Homo sapiens: one gene and its partners. The protein of the gene in region 4 interacts with the protein of the main gene of each other region in a biochemical or structural test. Each region holds a gene or a part of one and is shown on either strand. Other genes may lie near its edges. The genes, in order: CDC123, MARK4, PEX5 and USP9X.

The links.
Region 1: of the proteins of USP9X (region 4) and CDC123, one has a biochemical effect on the other in vitro, tested with the Homo sapiens proteins (one study listed by BioGRID).
Region 2: the proteins of USP9X (region 4) and MARK4 form a complex in vitro, tested with the Homo sapiens proteins (one study listed by BioGRID).
Region 3: of the proteins of USP9X (region 4) and PEX5, one has a biochemical effect on the other in vitro, tested with the Homo sapiens proteins (one study listed by BioGRID).

The regions. Positions count from the first base shown.
Region 1 is NC_000010.11:12,248,149-12,251,089, reverse strand, and holds the end of CDC123 (translation initiation factor eIF2 assembly protein), read right to left. Parts: intron 1,510-2,941; coding exon 1,372-1,509; intron 780-1,371; coding exon 753-779; 3' UTR 501-752; downstream 1-500. UniProt on the Homo sapiens protein: ATP-dependent protein-folding chaperone for the eIF2 complex. Binds to the gamma subunit of the eIF2 complex which allows the subunit to assemble with the alpha and beta subunits.
Region 2 is NC_000019.10:45,275,235-45,282,273, reverse strand, and holds part of MARK4 (MAP/microtubule affinity-regulating kinase 4), read right to left. Parts: intron 4,352-7,039; coding exon 4,232-4,351; intron 3,759-4,231; coding exon 3,659-3,758; intron 1,901-3,658; coding exon 1,791-1,900; intron 1,700-1,790; coding exon 1,540-1,699; intron 1-1,539. UniProt on the Homo sapiens protein: Serine/threonine-protein kinase. Phosphorylates the microtubule-associated protein MAPT/TAU. Also phosphorylates the microtubule-associated proteins MAP2 and MAP4.
Region 3 is NC_000012.12:7,199,654-7,206,692, reverse strand, and holds part of PEX5 (peroxisomal biogenesis factor 5), read right to left. Parts: intron 4,943-7,039; coding exon 4,852-4,942; intron 4,453-4,851; coding exon 4,342-4,452; intron 4,082-4,341; coding exon 3,989-4,081; intron 3,262-3,988; coding exon 3,142-3,261; intron 1-3,141.
Region 4 is NC_000023.11:41,228,406-41,235,444, reverse strand, and holds part of USP9X (ubiquitin carboxyl-terminal hydrolase 9X), read right to left. Parts: intron 6,193-7,039; coding exon 6,036-6,192; intron 5,879-6,035; coding exon 5,666-5,878; coding exon of another isoform or gene 5,618-5,665; intron 4,945-5,617; coding exon 4,849-4,944; intron 3,059-4,848; coding exon 2,921-3,058; 3' UTR 1-2,920.

The DNA of each region.
Region 1 (2,941 bases), on a different chromosome or scaffold from region 4:
AATACAAAAATCAGCTGGGCGTGGTGGTGTGCACCTGTAGTCCCAGTTACTCAGGAGGCTGAGGCAGGACTGCCTGAGTCCAGGAGATTGAGGCTGCAGTGAGCTGTGATTGTGCCACTGCACCCCAGACTGGGCAACAGAACAAGACTGTCCCTAAACAAAACAGGGCGGGCGTGGTGGCTCACACCTATAATCCCAGCACTTTGGGAGGCCAAGGTGGGCAAATCACTTGAGGATCAGGAGTTCCAGACCAGCCTGGCCAACACGGTGAGACCCTACCTCTACTAAAAATATAAAACTCAGCTGGGTGTGGTGGCATGCACCTGTAATCCCAGCTACTTGGGAGCCTGAGGCAGGAGAATCGCTTGAACCAGGAGGTGGAGGTTGCAGTGAGCCGAGATCGCACCAGTGCACTCCAGCATGGGCGACACAGCGAGACTGTCTCAAAAAATTAAAATTAAAATAAATAAATAAAATAATGACTCGGTAGAAAAGCAACGTATTTCATAGAAAGCATTTTATTATCAGAACAGTATGGTTTTCCTATGTTTAAGATCTATTTATTATGTTATTTTTACAAGTAGCAAAGTCCCTCCGTTTTTTTCCCCAGGTGAATGTACATGAATATAAAAAGTGGCTGATGTCCACACTGCTCGGCCCACCCGCATCAGGGTCGGCAGGAAGTTGCGGCTGATGAGCAGCTCCCGGAGCGGTGGGGCGGGGCCTCCTCTTCTCCAGTTCCAGTACGCTCATCAGTCGTCCTCCTGCTGATTTCTCTTCTGTCAAAGAAAACCAAGGGGATGTTAAAATAGCACATGCTCCTTGGGATATCTGCTCAGCAGGTGTAATTTTCTAGAGGTCTTGGCAAAGGATGTAATTAAAAATTGTCATGGAAAACCATGCTTTAATTCATTAAACTAGTTTATCACTTTGACTCCTGAGCAAATTATCCTCAGGTATTTGAGTATTTTCTTCTCTTTCTTCCATACATACAAAAACTCCTACACAGAAATCCACACAAAAATATAAATATTCACATCCCCTCTTGAGTAAAATCACCACCAGAGCAGAGACCTGCTCTCCTTACAGCCTTCTAACAATATACACACTTTCTTCAAAGTTACAAGTATTTTGAAAAATGTTCAAAAGGCATGTACAGCATAAAAACATTTTCTGTCATTCTAATCAATAAATTATGCCTTCAGCTCCTATTTCATATTTAATTAGAAAATGCTCTAACTCAGTAACTTGGTTCCATTCATAACCATCAAAGTCTAGGTGATACAGGATTCCAATGAAATATTATATAAAAGCCAATTTGAAGGTCTATTTGAAAAGATGGCCAGCATACTAAATGCACATAGACTTTACCAGCTTAAGGAAGTCTATTAGCTTGTGAGCGTCCTCCCCAGTAGAGAGGTCTACAAAGTCCTTGGGTAGCCGGTAACTCAAATAGGGGCTGGGCTGGACTGTCACTTCACTGTTTGTGCAACGGAAAGCTGGGGAATCCTGTACAAAGAAGAAAAAGGAGAAAGAATATCAATCATTTATTTTTAGGCCTATTCTGTGAACTAAAAAAGAACCTAGCAAAACAATTTCAACTCCATGTTTTCCTCTGTACTTGATGAGGAGAAAGGAAGATGCTTAAGTTAAAATGAGCCGGGCACGGTGGCTCACGTCTGTAATTCCAGCTGGAGTGCAGTGGCTCACTGCAGCCTCGACCTCCTGGGCTCAGGTGAACCTCGCACTTCAGCCTCCCAAGTAGCTGGGACTATAGGCATGCGCCACCACGCCCAGCTGAGTTTTTTAAATTTTAGTACAGAAAATATCTCAGTATGTTGCCCAGGCTGGTCTTGAACTCCTGAGCTGAAGCAATCCTCCTGCCTTGGCCTCCCAAAGTGTTAAGATTATAGGCTAGGTGGGCTGTTGCACCCATGCCAAACTATTTTTTTTTTTTTTTTTGAGGCAAAGTCTCGCTCTGTTCTCAGACTGGAGTGCAGGGGCACGATCTCTGTTGCCCAGGTCTCTGTTGCTCACTGCAACCTCTGCCTCCCAGGTTCAAGTGATTCTCCCACCTCAGCTTCCCAAGTAGCTGGGACTACAGGCGCGCGTCACCACGTCCGGCTAATTTTTGTATTTTTAGTAGAGATAGGGATTTCACTATGTTGGCCAGGCTGGTCTCAAACTCCTGACCTCAGGTGATCTGCCTGCCTCGGCCTCCCAAAGTGCTGGGATTACAGGCATGAACCACCATGCCCAGCTGCCAAAACTAATTTTTTTTTTTTAGACGAAGTTTTACTCTTGTTGCCCAGGCTGGATGCAATGGAGCAATCTCAGCTCATCGCAACCTCCACCTCCCAGGTTCAAGCGATTCTCCTGCCTCAGCCTCCCGAGTGGCTGGGATTACAGGCATGCACCACCATGCCTGGCTAATTTTTTTACTTTTAGTAGAGACGGGGTTTCTCCACGTTGATCAGGATGGTCTCGAACTCCCAACCTCAGGTGATCCACCTGCCTCAGCCTCCCAAAGTACTGGGATTACAGGTGTGAGCCACCGCACCTGGCCTGTTTTTTTTTTGAGACGGAGTCCCGCTCTGTCACCCAGGCTGGAGTGCAATGGCGTGATCTTGGCTCACTGCTGCAACATCCGCCTTCCAGGTTCAAGCAATTCTCCTGCCTCAGCCTCCCAAGTAGCTGGGATTACAGGCATCTGCCACCATGCCCAGCTAATTTTTTGTATTTTTAGTAGAGACGGGGTTTCACCATGTTGGCCAGGCTGGTCTCGAACTCCTGACCTCAGGTGATCCACCAGCCTCGGCCTCCCAAAGTGCTGGGATTACAGGTGTGAGCCACTACGTCTGGCCCAAAACTATTTTTTAAAAGATATAAAATGCTCACAAGAGAACACTGTGAAAATCTCAGGACATGTAATTGAGTATGT
Region 2 (7,039 bases), on a different chromosome or scaffold from region 4:
TAATGGGTGCTGATGGTGGTGTGTATCCTTTTTTTTTTTTTTTTAATTTTTTTGAGATGAGGTCTCTCTGTTGCCCAGGCTGGTGTGCAATGGCATGATCTCGGCTCACTGCAACCTCCGCCTCCCAGTTTCAAGCAATTCTCCTGCTTCAGCCTCCCGAGTAGCTGGGATTATAGGCACGCACCAACACGCCCAGCTAATTTTGTGTTTTTAGTAGAGACAGGGTTTCACCATGTTGGCCAGGCCGGTCTCAAACTCCCAACCTCAGGTGATCCACTCACCTCGGCCTCCCAAGGGATTACAGACATGAGCCACCGTGCCTGGCCCAGATTTAAACTCAGACTCTGTATTCATTTTCTGCAGCAGATGAGATGTCTGTCAGTTGCAGAATGTGGGGTATAATCAGCTGTCCGCCCAGCTCTCTTCCAGAGCCTCCTTTACTTCAGTGTGGAGGCAAAGCCAGAGGGCAGACTCTCAGCAGCCACTTTGTACAACGTGTCCTCCTGTGCCCCAGTTACAATGGATTAATTCAAACTTGACTCTGATATCAGAGCTTCATCCTGGACCAGAGATTCCAGCTGCCATTTGGACTGGTCTCTAAGGTAAGAAATTGGGGGCTGGGTGCAGTGGCTCACACCTGTAATCCCAGTACCTTGGGAGGCTGAGGTGGGTGGATCATGAGGTCAGGAGTATAAGAGCAGCCTGGCCAACATGGTGAAACCCTGTCTCTACTAAAAATACAAAAATTAGCCAGGTGTGGTGGCAGGTGCCTGTAATCCCGGCTACTCAGGAGGCTGAGGCACAAGAATCGCTTGAACCCAAGAGGTGGAGGTTGCAGTGAGCCAAGATCACGACACTGCACTCCAGCCTGGGATACAGAGTGAGACTCTGTCTCAAAAAAAAAAAGAAAGAAAAGAAAAGAAAAGGCTGGGCACAGTGGCTCACACCTGTAATGCCAGCACTTTGGGAGGCCGAGGGTGGATCACGAGGTCAGGAGTTCAAGACCAGCTTGGCCAACATGGTGAAACCCCATCTCTACTGAAAATACAAAAATTAGCCGGGGGGTTATGGCAGGCGCCTGTAATCCCAGCTACTCGGGAGCCTAAGGCAGAAGAATCGCTTGAACCTGTGCAGCAGAGGTTGCCATCAGCCAAGATCACACCACTGCACTACAGCCTGAGGCACAGAGTGAGACTCCATCTCAAAAAAAAAAATCGGGGAGCTGGGACATCAGGAAAAAAGATAGGATGAGATAAGTGAGAGACAAAGGAAAAACCACACAAGCAGAGAGGAAGCAAGACAGAGAGTGTCTGCTCTGGGTCTGGCTGCTTTTCCGGTTTTAATCCCTTCCTGAGCCTGGCTGTGCATTCCTGCCTCCAAGTTCCATGCAATGCCCTGTGTCTTTATAAGACATTCCTCCCTCTCTGAGGTTAGCTCCAGTGGGTTTCTGTTGCTTGCCAATCAGAGAACCCTGACGTAACTGTAAGTCTGGGCCTTGGGGAGAAGGAGGGTGCGTGAGGGCGTGGGGTTGATACTCACAGAAATCGCTATGCCTGCGCTGGCGGTGGTAGGTGGAAGAGGAACTCCGCTGCCCTTTGCTGTGGCTGGTGCCTTTGCTGGAACTTGTTCCGTTGGTGGTGTCGCTGGGCGCCCGCACCCGTGCCAGGGCCAGCCCTGGGGCGCCCCGGTCCCCACCCTCCTGCGAGAGGATGACAGATGAGGCTCTTCTGCACCCCAAGTCCCTCCACCCAGGCATCACGCGTCCCCAAGGGCCCCTGGCGCCCCCTGACCTCAGTCTTCCTGCCCAGCAGGAGGTAGGTGGCGGTCACTTCGTTGTACTTCTGGCTGGTCAAGGACTCTTTGATTTCTTCCCGTGTGTAGCCCATACCCACCATCACCTCTGGGAGGGGGGGATGGAGAGAAGTTTCAGACTCCCAGAAACTTTAACTTCCATCCATTTCTCTTTTTTTTTGAGACAGGGTGTCACTCTGTCACCCAGGCTGGAGTGCAGTGGCACGGTCACAGCTCACTGCAGCCTCGGCCTCCCCAGGCTCTGCTGATCCTCCCACCTCAGTTTTTGTATTTTCAGTAGAGACAGGGTTTTGCTATGTTGTCCAGGCTGGTTTGAAACTCCTGGGCACAAGCAATCCACCCACCTGGGCCTCCCAAAGTGCTGGGATTACAGGCATAAGCCACTGCACCTGGCCCACTTCCACTCATTTCTGTGTCATTCACTGGTGTCTGCTCTTTGACCTGTCCAGTACCCATCCTCCCTTCCCAACAGCACATTGATTTCCTTTGAAAGAACATTCTTTCCGCTCAGATCACGTGGATGGCTCCCCTGCTCCAACCCTAAGGCAGGCGGATAACCCAGGTCTGGCTAATTAGTGTGTTCTACACCCAAAGCCACACTGACTGCTTCATTGAAGGCATGTGACCCAGATCTGCTTGCCTCCTGGAGAGCAGCCTGGGAAAAAGCTACCACAGAAAACATTCCCAACAACTGTCTCTGAGCACCTGGATACAACTGTGCCTGAAGGCTGCATACTCTATTCATTTTAGTTATGTGGCAGAATAAATCATCACTATTAGGTTAAACCATACAAAATTGGTGGTACTGACAATTTTAAACCAAAAAAATGGCAATTTCATATGGTTCAACTTTTTGTTGTGTTCAACCTACTAATATAATTAGGTTGATACAAAAGTAATTCCGGTTTTTGCCATTTAATGGTAAAAACCGTAATTATTGTTATTTTAGATGGAATTTTGCTTGTCGCCCAGGGTGGAGTACAGTGGTGCAATCTCAGCTCACTGCAACCTCTGCCTCCTGGATTCAAGCAATTCTCGTGCCTCAGCCTCCAGAGGAGCTGGGATTACGGGTGCCTGCCACCACACTCATCTAATTTTTGTATTCTTAGTAGAGACGAGGTTTCATCATGTTGGCCAGGCTGGTCTCGAACTCCTGACCTCAGGTGATCTGTCAGCCTCAGCCTCCCAAAGTGCTCAGATTATAGGCGTGAGCCACTGTGCCTGACCTTTTTTTCTTTTTTTGAGACACGGTCTCACCCTGTCGCCTGGAGTGCAGTGGCATGATCATAGCTCACTGTAGCCTCAAATTGTTGGGCTCAAGGGATCCTCCTACCTCAGCTTGCTGAGTAGCTGAGACTACAGGTGCACACAACCACAACTGGCTAATTTTTTATTTTTATTTTTTTGTACAGACAGGGTCTCCCTATGTTGGCCAGGCTGGTCTCCAACTCCTGGGCTCAAGTGATTCTTCTACCTCGACCTCCCAAAGTGCTGGGATTACCAGCATGAACCACCTCGCCTGGTCTCTCTTTATGTCTTAATATCAAAGCGAACATGGGCCGGGTACAGTGGCTCACACCTGTGATCCTGGCAATTTGGGAAGCTGAGGCAGGCAGATCACCTGAGGTCAGGAGTTTGAGACCAGCATGGCCAACATGGCAAAACCCTGTCTCTACTAAAAATAACAAAAATTAGCCGGGCATGGCGGCAGGCGCCTGTGGTCCCAGCTACTTGGGAGGCTGAGGCACAAGAATCTCTTGATTCTGGGAGGCGGAGGTTGCAGTGAGCCGAGATTGCACCACTGCACTCCATCCTGGGTGACAGGATGGCTCTCCCTGACCCTCACCAATTCTCTTGGTGTCCCCGAAGTCCTCCTCGGGCTCTGTGTATGGCTTCAACTCCTCACCCTCATAGCCGATGTTGATCCATTTGTCTTTCATGATTTGCTGCAGGCATCAGGAGCAGGGAAGGGGGAAGACAGGTGTCAGAAGGAACCAGAAATCATACAGCTTCTGCCCTGCCCCAAACCTCCGAGGCCTAACACCCAGAATTGCGGGCTTCCTAAGAGATAGCGCCTCCTGGGCCTCTCTCTCCCCCACGTCCCCTGCCGGAGCCTCCTGATGCCACCCTCCCTCCTCCGCATCATCTGGGTCCCTGGCACCCTGTAATCATCCTAGGAGCTCATTAGCTAATTACTGGCAAGGCAGGGAGTGGGTGAGCCTGTCGGGGGGGTGGCGTCAGGACAGGCCTGGGAGCTTTTCCCTGGACGGCCTGTCTACCCCCACTCACCAGCAGCAGATCTTCGGTGGGCACAGGAGAGGAAAAGTGTGTCAAGAAGGCTTTTGTGGGTGGGGGCAGGCAGAGTTTAGGGGAGTCAGGAGACTAGAAGGGCTCCCGCTGGCTGTGAGGCTGGGCTCACCTCGAGAGTACAGCGTTTAGCTGGGTTCAGCACCAAAAATCTCCGCAGGATGCTCTCACAGTCTGTTGACATGTAGAAAGGGACCCGGTACTTCCCTCTGAGTACTCGCTCCCGCAGCTCCTGCAGGGATGGGGTTACTGGAGGAGGGGGTCTGCCCCGCCCCCCACCTATTACACACACACACACACACACACACACACACACACACACACACACACAACCTTTGTCCCAACCCCTTTGATAGAAGTGACAGAAGCTCTGAGTCCCAGTCCTTGACGAGGTAAGCAAAACCCCATTCCTTTCTCCTGACCTCAGTTCCCTGTCCATAAAATGGGAACATCATATGGACGCTGCAATTTAAAAAAAAAAATTCTTGGCCAGGCGTAGAGGCCAAGACCGGAGGATCGCTTGAGCCCAGGAGTTCAAGAACAGCCTGGGCAACACAGGGAGACCTCATCTCTACAAAAAATAAAAAATGACCTGAGCATGGTGGTGCACACCTGTAATCCAAACACGTTGGGAGGCCGAGGGAGGAGGATAGCTTGAACCCAGGAGTTCAAGACCAGCCTGAACAACCAGCCTGTCTCTACAAAAAAAAAAAAAAAAAAATTTAAGCTACATAACTTTTCATTCAGAGGAAAACTTGCAGAGAAAGTTTATTATCTGGCCAGGCACGGTGGCTCACACCTGTAATCCCAGCACTTTGGGAGGCCGAGACAGGCAGATCGCCTGAGGTCAGGAGTTCGAGACCAGCCTGGCTAACATGGTGAAACCCCATCTCCACTAAAAATACAAAAATTAGCTGGGTGTGGTGGTGGCTGCCTGTAGTCCTAGCTACTTGGGAGGCTGAGGCACGAGAATCACTTAAACTCTTAGGAGGTGGAGGTTGCAGTGAGTTGAGATCACGCCACTGCACTCCAGCCTGGGTGACAGGGCGAGATTCTGTCTCAGAAAAAAAAGGAAGTTTATTCTCTAAGTCAGGTAAGAGGGAGGTAGGTAAGTGAGTCAGCCACTGGGGCCTCGGTCTCCTTATCCGTGAAAGGGATTACAGGACCCACTTCACATGCTTGCTACCAGGGTACAGGTGAGTTAATATCCGTAAAAATGTGGCTGGGCGCGGTGGCTCACGCCTGTAATTCCAGCACTTTGGGAGGGTGAGGCAGGCAGATCGCCTGAGGTCAGGAGATCGAAACCAGCCAGGCCAACATGGCGAAACCCCATCTCTACTAAAAAAAAAAAAAATACAAAAATTAGCTGGGTGTGGTAGCAGACCCCTGTAATCCCAGCTACGCGGGAGGCTGAGGCAGGAGAATCACTTGAACCCAGGAGGCGGAGGTTGCAGTGAGCCGAGACTGCGCCACTGCACTCCAGCCTGGGCGGCAGAGCAAGACTCCATCTCAAAAAAAAAAAAAAAAAAAAATCTGTAAAATGCTTACCACATGCCTGGCCCAGAGCCAGAGAGCGGTATGTAAATATGAGATTCACTCAAGGGGAAGGAGACCCTACTGCCTCTCCTGCCTTCTCGTCTCTCCCCTCCCCCAGCCATGCCTGCTGTCCAAAGAGACACACTCCTCAAGGCCATTCATGGATTTATCTGCTGGCTTTCTCTTTAAGGGCCTTTTATGAGAGGCCCTACCAAAGCTGTGAAAAATAAGATAAATCCATAGCTTGGCAGACCAGGGGGAGCTCTTTCCATCTGAATAAAAAACCGCAATAGGCCAGGCGTGGTGGCTTATGTCTATAATCCCAGCACTTCGGGAGGCCAAGGTGGGAAGACCGCTTGAGCCCGTGAGTTTGAGACCAGCCTGGGCAACACAGCGAGACTCTGTCTCTACAAAAAATACAAAAATTAGCCAGGTGTGGTGGCACATGCCTGTGGTCCCAGCTACTCAGGAGGCTGAAGCAGGAGGATTGCTTGAGCCCGGGAGGTTGAGGCTGCAGTGAGCTGTGACTGCACCACTGCCCTCCAGCCTGGGTGACTGAGACCTTGTCTCAAAAAACAAACAGACAACAAAAAAAACGAAGGGAGGCAGAAAACAGGTAGGAATGAATTGAGCGTTGGGGGTGAACAGGACTCCTTTAGGACAGAGTCCTCTGCTGCAGCATTCTCCTAAAAGGGCTGAAAGATGCCCATGCCTGGGGAGCCTCTGCAGATCATAAAGGGCTATTAATATTTAATTTGGATCACTTTCAGGACACTTACCCCTTAGCAGGCAGTGTTCTAAGTGCTTTATGCATATTACATCCATTTTCACAACGCCGCGAAGCCCGGTTATAACGCCCACTTTCCAGACGAGGAGGTTGAGGCCTGGAGGGGTTTGGTCACTTGCCCCAGGATTGCACAGCCAGAAAGTGGCAGAGCCTTGGCTCTGGAGCCTGTGCTGTGTGACCACCATGCCACACTGCCTATCACGTGATGGGGGAGAAGAAACCATCAGGCCACCACTGCCACCTCCAGCGCAGCTCCCAAGCATGATGCTGTGGCCAGATGCCAAGCTCCAGTGAAGGGCTTAACATATGCAGACGGGCTGCAAGCAGATGCTTTTTTTTTTTTTAAAGAGACAGGCTCTTGTTCTGTCACCGAAGCTGGAGTGCAGTGGCGTGATCATAGTTCGCTGTAGCCTGGAACTCCTGGGCTCAAGCAATTCTCCCACCTCAGCATCCCAAGTAGCTGGGACTACAGGCATGCACCACAATGCCAGGCTAATTTAAAAAATATTTTTTGTAGAGATGTGGTCTTGAAATGTTGCCCAGGCTGGTGTCAAACTCTTTTTATTTTTTTGAGATGGAGTCTTGCTCTGTCGTCCA
Region 3 (7,039 bases), on a different chromosome or scaffold from region 4:
AAACACTTAAATCTTACCAGCAAAATTCTAAGTCATGATCAGATGCAAATTATTTGTCACAAATGAAAATTAAATAATTACAATGGGGGGTTTAAGAAGAAAGACATATTATAGTAGATTTGAGATAAATGTATAGAAAGTATATTTATATTGAAAACAAGTGTGTTTTTGGACATCTCTGCATAATATAAAAACTAAGAAGGCAGAAAATGACGCTAGTCCAGTGATCAGCAAACTTTTTCTGCGAAGGGCCAGATAATAAATATTTCAGGCTTCGTGGATCTGCTGCAACTACTCACCTCTACTGTTGTAGTGCGAAAGCAGCCAGACATAAGTAAACAAATGAGCACGGCTGTCTTCCAATAACATTTTATTTATGGACACTAAAATTTGAATTTTATATAATTTTCACTTGTCACAAAGTATTACTCTTTTGATTTTCTCCAACCATTTAAAAATGTTAAAACCATCCTCAGCTAGTGGATCACTAAAAACATAAAGATTTATCCCACAAGCCAGTGTGCTGGCCCTTGCCCTAGACTATTACAGTTCAATAAAATAAATCCTTCTGCATTCAACCTCAACTATTGTTCATCATTAATACGTGTTTTAAGCCACTCTACAGAAAACAGAGATTACTGTCATCTATAATGCAGTTTCCTAATAAAAGTAATTCCTGCCTCTCAGAGCCATTGAGAACATCAAATGGGAATCTTCACCAACGCCTTACCAAAAAGCTTAAGATACTATCTGTAAATAGCTATTATCCTCACTGCTCTAGATACTTCCTTAAGATATGATGGCCTGTATATGACAGCCAGAAGTGATGCGAATGCTCTTCAGGTGTCTTCATTAGATAATACAACAACTCAATGCCACCATCTTGCAACCACAGGATTCTCTAAGTTTCCTCTCATCCATATTATCTACCCTCCTTGAAGTCTCATCAATTGCTGATCAAAGAGGAATTTTCCAAAATTAGAATATTTGCATAGATGATGGAAAAAGAGTACTCTGGGGGATCCCTCAACAACCCACAGAACACAGGATAAGCTTGGCTTCACTGTTACATCCTGAAAAGCCAAACCCAAGTCATTAATTTTATCTGATACACGGTCTGGTCTGCTCCAAAATCTCATAGGATCAAACTGCAGAAATGATCACTACAAAGAGTTTGTCCCATCACATACTTCTCTTTTATCATAATAGTATATTAATATCTGCCTGAGCTGCAATGTAAATTGTCTCTGAAAATATAAGGGCTATCAATAAACAAACAGTGCATTCAAAGAGATCCATGAATTTATGTAACAATCAAGAGTCAAGTCCTTTGTTTTTAAAAAGTTCTATTGACATGGAATTCAATATTAGCTTAAAGCCAGATACTGTCTAATTGCTTACTACATCACTTTTTGAGGAACATTAATGCAAGTATTTCTAGTCCTAATTTTGCAATATCCCAAAGTATCAATGATATCAAGTAGGGCTCAAGAATCTACAAACATACTTTTAAAGTTTTTAATTAAAAAATGTATTCTGGATATGACACCAAAAGCTCATATCCCAAAAATCATTGCAAAGACTAATGTCAAGAAACTTTCTCCCTATGTTTTCTTCTAGGCATTTTACGGTTTTGGGTACTGCATTTGGGTCTTTAAGCCATTTTGGATTAAGTTTTGTACATAGTGTGAGGTAACGGTTCAGTTTCACTCTTTTGCACATGGATATGCAGTTTCTCCAATACCATTTATCGAAAAGACTATCCTTTCCACATTTCTATTCTTGGAACCTGATCAAATGTGATTTTTTTTCTAAAAAAAAATTTGCTTTCTAATTTGTCACATTGTTCTATGTGTCTGAAAAAAAAAAATGTATTCTGGCCAGCATGTCATAAATACGAGAGTAATAAATGATAAAAGAAAATGCTGCTCATACAAAACTAGTATTATGTCTATATGTATGAAAAGCATGGACATTTTTACATAAATGTACAACTTTCCATTTATAAGTTGATGGGGCCTATGTGACTTATCAAATTGTTAATACAAAATAATAACAAAAGTGTTATCTATATTTCCTTCAGTTCTTCCTTATCAAAATTATATACAATGAACTCATAGTCTAGTGAAATACATGGCAAGGTCCCAGCTGTCTTTTCCCTTATATCACACAGGATAGTTAGAAAAATCCAGATCAGACTGGAATAATAAGCAAAATCATATTTTTCCTAATACTGTTCTTCACTGGCTCTCAAACTCTAGCCTTTTTCTGAACTGCATCTTCCCATCTTTGCATAGCTCCCTTATTACATCAAGATCCATCTCCAGCACCCTGGTTTGCATCTCAGGCCCTGGTTCCAGCCCCACAATACTTTCCCAACCAGATCTGAACTGAGAAAAAGACATCACTACTCACATCCCCAGTTCCTGTTTTGCCTTTTTTCAAAACCAAGTGATTCTTTCCCCTCTTCATGTTTCAACTCAGGAGCTCAGTTATTAAACACATCCCCAAATATCCTACAACCCACAGGTAGATTTGTTTTTCAGTAAGACCCCAGAAGTAACATATGCTTCTAAGTCAACAGCACATGCTATAGGCAAAATGCAATCATCTTTCATACTACTAAGAAATTTCCCTAATATTTAAGTTATCTAATATAAATTCTTTGAAAACCCTAAATTAGGGCAAGTGGCTACTACCTATAAAAGATAAGAACTTAAAATGAATATGTGAGTTTAAAAAGTAAACAGATATTAAGATGTGGAGGCAAAGGGATAGTCTGTCCACTAACACTCCCCACCAAAGGAGTCAGCAGTCTTCTCAAAAAGCTCCCAATCTGACCTCCAAGCAGAGCTACTTCCTCTGTGCTTTTAATGCAGCAAGCATGTGCAAACCTCCTTCACAGGTGTTATGTACTGGACTGTCGTTATTGACAAAGATAGTCTCATTAACATCTATATCCCAAGAATAAAGTTTATACTCAATCACTGAAGAGGAAGGGCAAGGGAATTATTCAGACTTCTTTTCGTGGAAAGGGACTCAAGAAAATACTTAAAAGCACCCTTCAAATTCAGGATTAAAGGAAAGACGTTAAAAAGAAGGAAGTTCTGGAACCTGAAAAACTAAGAGTTTTTACCTCACCTTATCATAGGTAGCTGACGTAAGGTCATCATAGTCAGAAAGCCAGGGGTGGGCCTCAGCATCCCGTTTTGCCATCTCCTCCAACTCTGCCTGCAACTTGTCCCAGAAATCGACATCAGACTGTAAGGAAGGGAAAGCAGATAGAAAAAGGAGATCCATCATGACCACCCCACCCCACACTCAGCTCTGCTGGGATTCTCTAAGGCAGCAGTTCTTGAATTTCAATATGTTTAAGAATCATCTGAATAAGTTTTTTAAAATGCAAATGGCCAGATGCTATCCCCAGATACTGATTTAGTAGTCTGGGGTGATGGCCAGAAATGTAATGTAGTGCAGTGCAGTGCAGTGCAGTGCAGTGCAGTGCAGTGCATAGTTTAGTTTAGTTTTTTGTTTGAGACAGAGTTTCACTCTCGTTGCCCAGGCTAGAGTGCAATGGCGTGATCTCATCTCGTTGCAACCTCCACCTCCCAGTTTCAAACATTTCTCCTGCCTCAGCCTCCCAAGTAGCTGGGATTACAGGCATGCGCCAACACACCACGCTAATTTTGTATTTTTAGTAGAGACATGGGGTTTCTCCATGTTGTTCAGACTGGTCTCGAACTCCTAACCTCAGGTGATCCACCCACCTCGGGCTCCCAAAGTGCTGAGATTACAGGCATGAGCCACCATGCCTGGCCCAGAAATCTGCATTTTTCAACAGCACCCACCCCATCCCCAAGCAACTCTGACACAGATGATCCAGGTCCACTATGAAATACAATTTGCATCATCTTTGATGTTCATACACCCACTCACTCCAAGGAGTGTTTTCTTTTGGGGTGTCTGCTCCTGCACTATCTGCTCTCACCTCTATAGCTGACTTGGCTCGTTCAAACTCCATATCAAGGGCAGATGTGTTTACTGGTCTTGTGAACTGGTCAACCCAGGCATCTGATGTACCCTGCGACAAAAAAGGATGGTCAGTACCACTACCACCAACTTTCTATCCATCAGACGCACACTAAATACCCACTAACCACCACCAACCTGGGTACTTCTGAGAAAATCATTCTCAGAATCTCTTTCCCACCCACTTGGGACCTGGATGCTATCAAGACAAGCTGGTCTTATCCTTCCCCATCTGGGACCACTGACCACTGAACCCATGGCCTGGGGCATCAGCTGGCTCTGAAGTGGGACTGGAAAGTGACAATGTCCTACCTGCTGCTGTATAAACTCTGCTGCCCACTGTTCTGCCTGAGCTCGGCCCGACCCTGCACCGGACTCCAGGGACACCTGCCCTTCGCCAATCTGCCGCACGAATTTCAGGAACTGGGGCACAGAGACACACACAGGCCACTTGGGAAAGGACTTCCAGGTGTGCACTCTCAACCATGCCCAAGAGGACCCTGTACTCACCCCTCCCCTGACCATCTCTAGCTGCAGACAAGATATGCTAAAGACCCTAAAAGAGGTAGAGAGCAAAAAGAAAGGGATTTCTGGCTCTAAAGACTTGCAAAGGCATCAGAAAAAAGAGTTAGTAGGCAAGGAGATGAGGGAATGAACACTAGAAGGAAGAGGCAGGATCTTAAGTCTCTGTTCTATAGACAGGAACGAAGAGACCTAAGATCTCTTCTCCTTCTCTTTAAACTAAACTGGGGTAAGAAAAGCAAGATTCTTGCCTTCCAAAACCAGCTCTGCTGGGCAAAGCAGCAGAGGGATGTGGCTCACCTCAGAATTAGCCAATTTGGGGTCATCCACTTTGGCCACAAAGTCACTGGCCGTGTGCTGCAGATCCTCCTCAGGATGATATTCATCATACCTGGAACGGGTAAGAACTAATTTTACACATTAGTCTGCCATCACCCTCCCCATGCTACTCCCCACTCCTAGCCCATGACAATGACAGTTCCTGTGAGGGAACTCCATTCTCCTGTTGAGAACCTACAAACTCCAATTTGCATTATAGAAGGACATTTGGGCAGGAGTGTGAAAGTACTAGCTACATCCTTCTAGCTCTCCCTTTCCCAAACATATCTTTGCATACAGATGGGATAGTAGCAGGCTCAAAATTAAGAAGGGAACAAGGTAAAATTATGAACTTTAAGATGAAGTTATGAACGTCATATAGGATAGTTAGGATTCTTGAAAAATATATATATATTTACCTATATACATATATTTTAAAAGTCTGAAAACTCCCTTCCTCCCAAATATAGCTGATATGTATATATACGTGTATGTGTGTATGTATATACATGTGTATGTGTATGTGTGTATACATGTATGTCTATGTGTGTGTATACATGTGTACGCATGTATCTACATGTTTACATATGTATACGTGTGTATATACATGTATGTGCACATGTATGTGTATGTATGCGTGTGTACATATGTGTATGTGTGTATATATGTGTGTGCGTGTGTGTGTGTGCACGCACACATGCATGCGCTTTTGGTTTTTTAAAGACAAGGTCTTACTGTGTTCCTCGGGCTAGACTTGACCTCCTGGGCCCAAGCAATCCTCCCACCTCAGCTTCCTGAGTACAGGCACACAACCACTGTGTCCTTGACTACATTTCAACCATAAATTCACAGGAGTAATAACCCAAGGGGAAATCTTAAAGAATAAAGTAAGCCCTCTCCCTCTCCCTCTCCCTCTCCCTACGGTCTCTCTCCCCCTCTCTTTCCACGGTCTCCCTCTGATGCCGAGCCGAAGCTGGACTGTACTGCTGCCATCTCGGCTCCCTGCAACCTCCCTGCCTGATTCTCCTGCTTCAGCCTGCCGAGTGCCTGCAATTGCAGGCACGCGCCGCCATGCCTGACTGGTTTTCGTATTTTTTTGGTGGAGACGGGGTTTCGCTGTGTTGGCCGGGCTGGTCTCCAGCTCCTAACCGCGAGTGATCCGCCAGCCTCGGCCTCCCGAGGTGCCGGGATTGCAGACGGAGTCTCGTTCACTCAGTGCTCAATGGTGCCCAGGCTGGAGTGCAGTGGCGTGATCTCGGCTCGCTACAACCTCCACCTCCCAGCCGCCTGCCTTGGCCTCCCAAAGTGCCGAGATTGCAGCCTCTGCCTGGCCGCCACCCCATCTGGGAAGTGAGGAGCGTCTCTGCCTGGCCGCCCATCGTCTGGGATGTGAGGAGCCCCTCTGCCTGGCTGCCCAGTCTGGAAAGTGAGGAGCGTCTCTGCCCGGCCGCCATCCCATCTAGGAAGTGAGGAGCGCCTCTTCCCAGCCGCCATCCCATCGAGGAAGTGAGGAGCGTCTCTGCCCGACCACCCATCGTCTGAGATGTGAGGAGCGCCTCTGCCCCGCCGCCCCGTCTGGGATGTGAGGAGCGCCTCTGCCTGGCCGCGACCCCGTCTGGGAGGTGAGGAGCGTCTCTGCCCGGCCGCCCCGTCTGAGAAGTGAGGAGACCCTCTGCCCGGCAGCCGCCCCGTCTGGGAAGTGAGGAGCGTCTCCGCCCGGCAGCCACCCCGTCCGGGAGGGAGGTGGGGGTCAGCCCCCCGCCCGGCCAGCCGCCCCGTCCGGGAGGGAGGTGCGGGTCAGCCCCCCGCCTGGCCAGCCGCCCCGTCCGGGAGGGAGGCGGGGGGTCAGCCCCCCGCCCGGCCAGCCGCCCCGTCCAGGAGGGAGGTGGGGGTCAGCCCCCCGCCCGGCCAGCCGCCCCGTCCGGGAGGGAGGTGGGGGTCAGCCCCCTGCCCGGCCAGCCGCCCCGTCCGGGAGGGAGGTGGGGGTCAGCCCCCCGCCCGGCCAGCCGCCCCGTCCAGAAGGTGAGGGGCGCCTCTGCCCGGCCGCCCCTACTGGGAAGTGAGGAGCCCCTCTGCCTGGCCACCACCCCGTCTGGGAGGTGTACCCAATAGCTCATTGAGAACGGGCCATGATGACAATGGCGGTTTTGTGGAATAGAAAAGGGGGAAA
Region 4 (7,039 bases):
ACATTTAAAATAGGAAATATATGGCTCAAAAAATCAGTTGAGGGAGAACTAAATAATCCTTAGGCACTTTGAAGACTTGAAATTTAAAATGTGCCACTTGTGTTCAGAAAAAGACCTCAAAATCACCATTATGTTGCTCTTGCAACAACATGCATCTTTAAATTTCTGGTTATACATTAATGCTTGAGTTAAATATAGAAAATAATTTGCACAAACAAAAATAACTCCACTTTCCCTTGCTCCTAGTCACAACGAATACCACTCTTCCTCAAATGGAGACAAAAATGACTCACAAGCCCCTCACCTGGCACAAGGGGGCTTGTAACTTCAAAGCAACCAAGGTTGGGCTCTTCCTCCAAGCAGAAAAATTCACAGCCTTTTATATGTCAAGTTTTCTCTCAACTAGGAAGTCGTTAAAGTTTTTAAGTACATTACATATTTTGTTAAGGAGCAGCAGGAAATATATAAATCTCCTCTCAGATGGTGAGATGGTACACCTAACTCATCCAAATAAAGTTAACCTATTTCACTCGTTTAAAGAGCTTGGAATTGAGGAACTTTTAAATTAAAAAAACTATCAACTGGGGCCAGGCGCGGTGGCTCACACCTGCAATCCCAGCACTTTGGGAGGCCGAGGCGGCCAGATCACCTGAGGTCAGGAGTTCAAGACCAGCCTGGCCAACGTGGTGAAACCCTGTCTCTACAAAAATACAAAAATTAGCTGGGCGTGGTGGTGGGCACCTCTAATCCCAGCTACTCGGGAGGCTGAGGCGGAAGAATCGCTTGAACCCAGGAGGCGACGTTGCAGTGAGCCAAGATTGTGCCACTGCACTCCAGCCTGGGTGACAGAGCAAGACTCCATCTCAAAGAAGAAAACAACAAAAAAATAAAAACAAAACAAAAATCAGTTGGAATTGCAAACACCGTGTGTGACTTTCACTCAAAGTATCGGTGTCAAAATGTCCTACAGGAACACCTAGAAGCACAGGTTGACTATACAGTACTACAAATAAGATACCCAAAGCTTTATCTTAAATACCTGCCCCTTTTAATCACAAAATAATGCAATGCTCAATTTTGTTTCTGCTTTGTTCAGTTCCAAGTGTAGCCTTTTGACAAAACATTTCCCTATTAACTGAATTGTAAAAAATACAACCAAGCTTGTGCTCATTAAATATACATGTATATAAAAAACATACAAAAAGTACAAGATTATGTTAGGAAACTTTTACAGTGTCAACATCCTGATTTCTCAAAATCTTCAGTAGAGGGCCAAAGGTCAAATCTTTCTGTGCACAAAAACTTGATGTGACTGAAATCCTGAATCAGTGTCATGCCTAGGCATGCTATGCACAGAATGAATTTTAATATGCAGTCCTCTTTTAAAAAAAAAAAAAAAGGACAAAAAAAGTAACCAAAAAAAAAACCAAAAACACACCACAGGACAAAAAGTTCTTCTTAAATCAAATTCTATTTGTGAATTCAGCAAAATAATTTCTATAAAATAAAACAGCAAAATATTTAAATAGAATAGGGTGGGCTGTATCTGTTTGCAGGGGTATTTGGTTTTTAGACAGGTTCCAAAAAATTACACACATTCAAGTTACCAATTCTCTTTTAAATACAGTATGAACTGAGGATTTCCTTATTTTTAATCAAATGTTTATTCTGAAATTGTAATATCTCAATTATATCAACCAGTAGTTTCTTTTTTAATGAGACCCTGCTTTGAACGTTAAACGTTTTGGAATAATGGAAAAGGAGCTAGGACAATTCTTGCTTTCAAGTAAAATTGTGACTGAGCAGAAAATCAGCCAGCTATCTTGGTGCAGAGAGGTACTCCAAGTACCGTGGGGTTCTGATGACTTCCACGTCACTGGGATCCAACAGAAGGAAAGTTTTAGAAGATTCACCTAATAAACTCTACCAAAGAAACAAAACAAGCACACCAAATACAGTCTTATATTATGCTCCAGCATCTTGGCATAGCAAATTTTTGCATATTTGTTTTAAATCTTTAAAAATTCCCATTACTGATACGTAAGTGTTCTTTATTCCACCCAGAGATTGAACTGTCAAACATTATATATAAGGAACATATGTGCAACTGAAAATAGACTGTCACATTTCTCCCCTTGTTTTATATTTTAATATTCTAGGTGTAAGAAGTAAAAGCTCTGAGTAATACAGCTGTCACTTCTCGGACAACTGCTGTCATTATGGTAACTTTTTCCTCATTGGCTACACTAACTTGGTGTGAAGCCATGCTAAATGTTACAGCATAACTATAGCTTCAAAGTGATTAACCTAATATCAGAATAAAAAGGCAATGAAAAAAATCTAGAAACAGTGTTACATCACCAATTTTCCACATCAACCAAATAATTTAAAGGTTACCAGCCTTACATTGCTCATAGCAAAATTGACTCCAGTGGCAAAGAATTAACATGAAACTATTGGTGTGGCTGACATGGATGGGCTCTGTTTTGTTGCTGTTGGTTTTTTTTTTTTCTTTTTTGTAAAGGAGCTGATCCAACTGCCATGAGGCAGGCAACACTGGTTGCAGAGTGCAGTGGGTGTAACAAGAAAATTAACTTTTGTAGTTTGTGTAGATCTGTGAGTCTCATCAAGAAAAAAGTTTCTTGCTTAAGAATTAACAGTCAACATTAATATACTATATACACCTTTGCCATTTACACATTAGCATCAGGCCATTTATTACAAAACACTATACACTTTCCACTGCAGGCGGGTTATATATTGACAGCAAATTTCTGCAGATAAGACAGTGAATAAACTCTCCACTCCATGTTGATTAGGAATAGTTTTTCTAGTTTTAAATATTAGCCAGACACAGAAAAAGGTTGGACTGTAAGGCCTGGGTGCACAGTCTTGATGGAACCAGTTAATTATGTGCATTTCATTGATCCTTGGTTTGAGGTGGGGATACTTCTTCACTGCCTTCATAATTTTCTTGTGCTCGTTGGCCAGTTCTCTGAGGGTTGTTCATGTGATGTGCTGCTGGGCCTGTATATGGCTGTCCATGCACATGGTTATTCTGGGAAAGGAGAAAAGATCTGTATGTTAAAACTTTTCACATAGTAAAACAACTTCAAAATCATGGTCTGAAGTCTCTGGAAATGTATACTCTTATTCTTGGGACTTACTCTGTAAATACCCTTGGACTACTATAGTGCAAAACAAAAACAAAAACAAAAACAAAAAAAGGCTTGAAAAACGTAGTGTAAATGCAAACCCCAAAACCCTGAATAAGAGCAGTGATTGTGTAGGTCCACATAAATCTTTGGCCAAAGTGATTTTTAGTGCCAAAAATTATTTAGACTCAAGTCTGGCAAATAAAGGATTAACCCACTGTTGCTCTTGGTAAAAAATTTTCAGAGAATGATCTATGAGCATCTATTGACTCTTCCACATGCTAAATCCGATTGACTAACCATGATGTAAGATATATAGGAGCAGTAACCCTGAACTCACAATAATGCTGATTAAAAACAGAACAATGTTCAAGATGATAAAGTAACCAGGCATGATTAACATAAGAGCTTTCTCAGGGTCAAAGGAAGTTAACCTTCCTTGTGGATTTGGTTCCTTAACCTTTTAAAATGTCTGAACCCTACAGTGCTCTCATTTTTCTGTACATGCTCCATCAGCCAAGCCAAGATTTTAGGCTTAACTTTTTTTTTTTTTTTTTTGAGATGGGAGTTTCGCTCTTGTTGCCCAGGCTGGAGTGCAATGGTGCTATCTCGACTCACCACCACCTCTGCCTCCTGGGTTCAAGAGATTCTCTTGCCTCAGCCTCCTGAGTAGCTGGGATTACAGGCATGCGCCACCACCATACCCGGCTAATTTTGTATTTTTAGTAGAGACAGGGCTTCTCCATGTTGGTCAGGCTGGTCTCAAACTCCTGACCTCAGGTGATCCACCTGCCTCAGCCTTCCAAAGTGTTGGGATTACAGGCATGAGCTACCGCGCCTGGCCAGGCTTTACTTTCTATAGATGAAAATAAGTACGCTGAATGTGTACTTCCTAACTATTCAGTTTGCTTCTATGTACACAGTGAAATGTAAGAAAGAATGCCTGAAATGTTTCTCCAAGTATGGTTCCTGGACCACCAGCAGCATCACTTGGGAACTTGCTAGAAATGTACATTTTCCAGCCCCTTGAAGACCTATGAAATAAGACACTTTAGGGTAGCATCTAGCTCTCTGCTGGAGCAACCCTTCCAGGGAGACTCACGCCTGTGCAAGTTTGAGTACCACTGCCTCACAAGAGCTGATTTAGTCACATTTTGGTTTCAGAAAGAAAAAGTTATCATTTAGAATGTTTCTTCATCTCATTTCTTTTGCTATTTACTAGTTTATTTACTTTAATCACCTATGGAAATCTACCCAAATCCTTTTTTTTCCAGTGATTTTTACCATCACTGAAACCTGTGGCTAAGTAACCAAGGACTTCTTACTTCATTGCCATATCTTAATAATGTTTTTGGAATCCAGGTGAAGATTTTACCTCACCGGAAATGTCACCACAATCCTTTGCACTAAACAATGATCATTTTATGTTGATATAAATTCTCATACAGTTTTATTAACTACTAGCACAAGAAGGACACCTTCTTGACAAGGAAAACCCTACAGTGGTTAAGTTCAAACATGTTACACCATGACCCCCACTCCAAACCATCCCTCTTCTGGATCATGCTCCCAAAGCTAGTCTAGATAATCCTACTTCTTACTTTGTAGTCACAACAAACAATTGAGCCATCCTCTAAAATTAAGCATAAAACCCAGTTCTAGGGGATAAAAGCATAAACTGACTCCTGTTTACCTGTTGATACTGAGATCCAGGTGAATGGGGGTACAATGGGGCATCTTCAGGTGGAGGCGACTCATGTTCATCTGGAGCATCTTGGTCATCTGGCTCCTAATTTTGAATATTTCAAGATAAAAAATTACGTAGGCAAACTCAAGTTTACTTTTAACTTTTTCTATTTGAAATAAATTTTAAAAATCTACAAAACTGACCCATTAGCAACTTTTCTTTTACTGCAGATAAAGAACTTGGGGAAAAAACAAAAAAAAAAAAAACAAAACAAAAAACCTGATTTGCATTCTCTCAGAACTACTACATTTCAGGCAATTTCACAGAAATTTCTCCAAAAGAAAGCTCCCTTCATTAGCTTAAAATGACATAGAATAAACATTCTTTTCTTTTCTTTTTTTGAGATGGAGTTTCACTCTTGTCACCCAAGCTGGAGCCCACTGGCACGATCTCCGCTCACTGCAATCTGTGCCTCCTGGGTTCAAGTCATTCTCCAGCCTCAGCCTCCCAAGTAGCTGAGATTACAGGCGCCTGCCACCACGCCCGACTAATTTTTCTATTTTTAGTGGAGATGGGATTTCACCTTGTTGGCCAGGCTGGTCTTGAACTCCTGACCTCAGGTGATCCGCCTGCCTCGGCCTCCCAAAGTGTTGGGATTACAGGCGTGAGCCACCATGCCCAGCCGAATAAACATTTTTCAAAACCCAAAACTTCAACATAATCTTTTAATAATATCATTAATACATAAACACTGGCCTATAAAATAAAGAATTACTTTGCTCTCTTCCATTTCTATCTGCTGCACACTGGTGGCTTTTTTTACCTCCTCTGGACAGAGTTCACAAGCTTTTGCAAGTGTCATCCTAGCACTATGTGATCTCTCCAAGAAATAACCATTGGACGTTTCATTGCTTTGCACTGGGGGAGACCAATTGTTGTAAGTGTACTGAGGATTGCCAGTATATGGTCTTCTTTCAAGTTCATCTCCAAGCCATTCCACTGCCCAGGTCCACTTTCTTTTAAGATCTCCATTGCCCTGCAAAAGAAAATAAAACCATATAGATAAGAGGATTTGGAATACTTCAAAGTTAACTTAAAATGACAACCCCAAGTTCTCATGATTCTCTTCTTTTAAAACAGAATCCTTAATTCTGATTAAGATTTCTACAAAATTATAAGAAAAAAATCCTCACCTGCAGGATTTGGTAAGCAACAGGACAGTTACTAAATAGAGCTACCATACATTTTATACACTGGTATGCTCTTTTTTGATAGTGATTCTTAGAGCGCTGGATTGTGTCAAACAGCCCATCTCGGTCATCTGGAATTCCTTTCAGTGCATTATGAATTCTGAAAGAGAACCAGATATAAAATAAAAACATCTAAAATCTAATAGCTAATATATACTGAGTGCCTACTATGTGCCACTCAATAATGTCTTTTAGTCATTTAATCTAACATTAGACAATAGGTACTATTATTAAACCTTTATTTTTTATTTATTTATTTTTTTTGAGACGGCCTGGGCTGGAGTGCAGTGGCGCCATCTCGGCTTACTTCAAGTCCTGCCTCCCAGGTTCACGCCTCTCTCCTGCCTCAGCCCAACTACAGGCACGTGCCACCACGCCCAGCTAATTTTTTGTATTTTTAGTAGAGACGGGGTTTCACCGTGTTAGCCAGGATGGTCTCAATCTCCTGACCTCGTGATCCGCCTGCCTCGGCCTCCCAAAGTGCTGGGATTACAGGCATGAGCCACTGCGCCTGGCCTTATTATTAAAACTTTTAACAGGTGAGAAAATTGGCACAGAGTTACACAGCTTGCCGAGGTCATATAGCTGCGGAGCAGTGTGACTCCAGAGTCTGTGCTCTTACTAACTTATTACCAGTCCAAAATAATTCTGCCATATATGTAATTTAAACACATTACCTGAAGTGAATTCAGGACACTCGAGAGTAATGCAAACTTTAAAAAAGTTATAACTAAGTTTATGACTGCTGTAGTTGAGGGTAATTTGCTACACATCAATACCTTTTATAAAACTGCATCTCTGAAGGCAAGTTAGGATTCAGTGACATAATTTGGAGGTACAGTATTTGAATTCTAATAATGAGAATACATGGCAGGCAAAGCATTTTGACAGGCAATAGTACAATTTGGCTGATTTGCCAATAACACAGGATTTCATTTCAGTTTCTC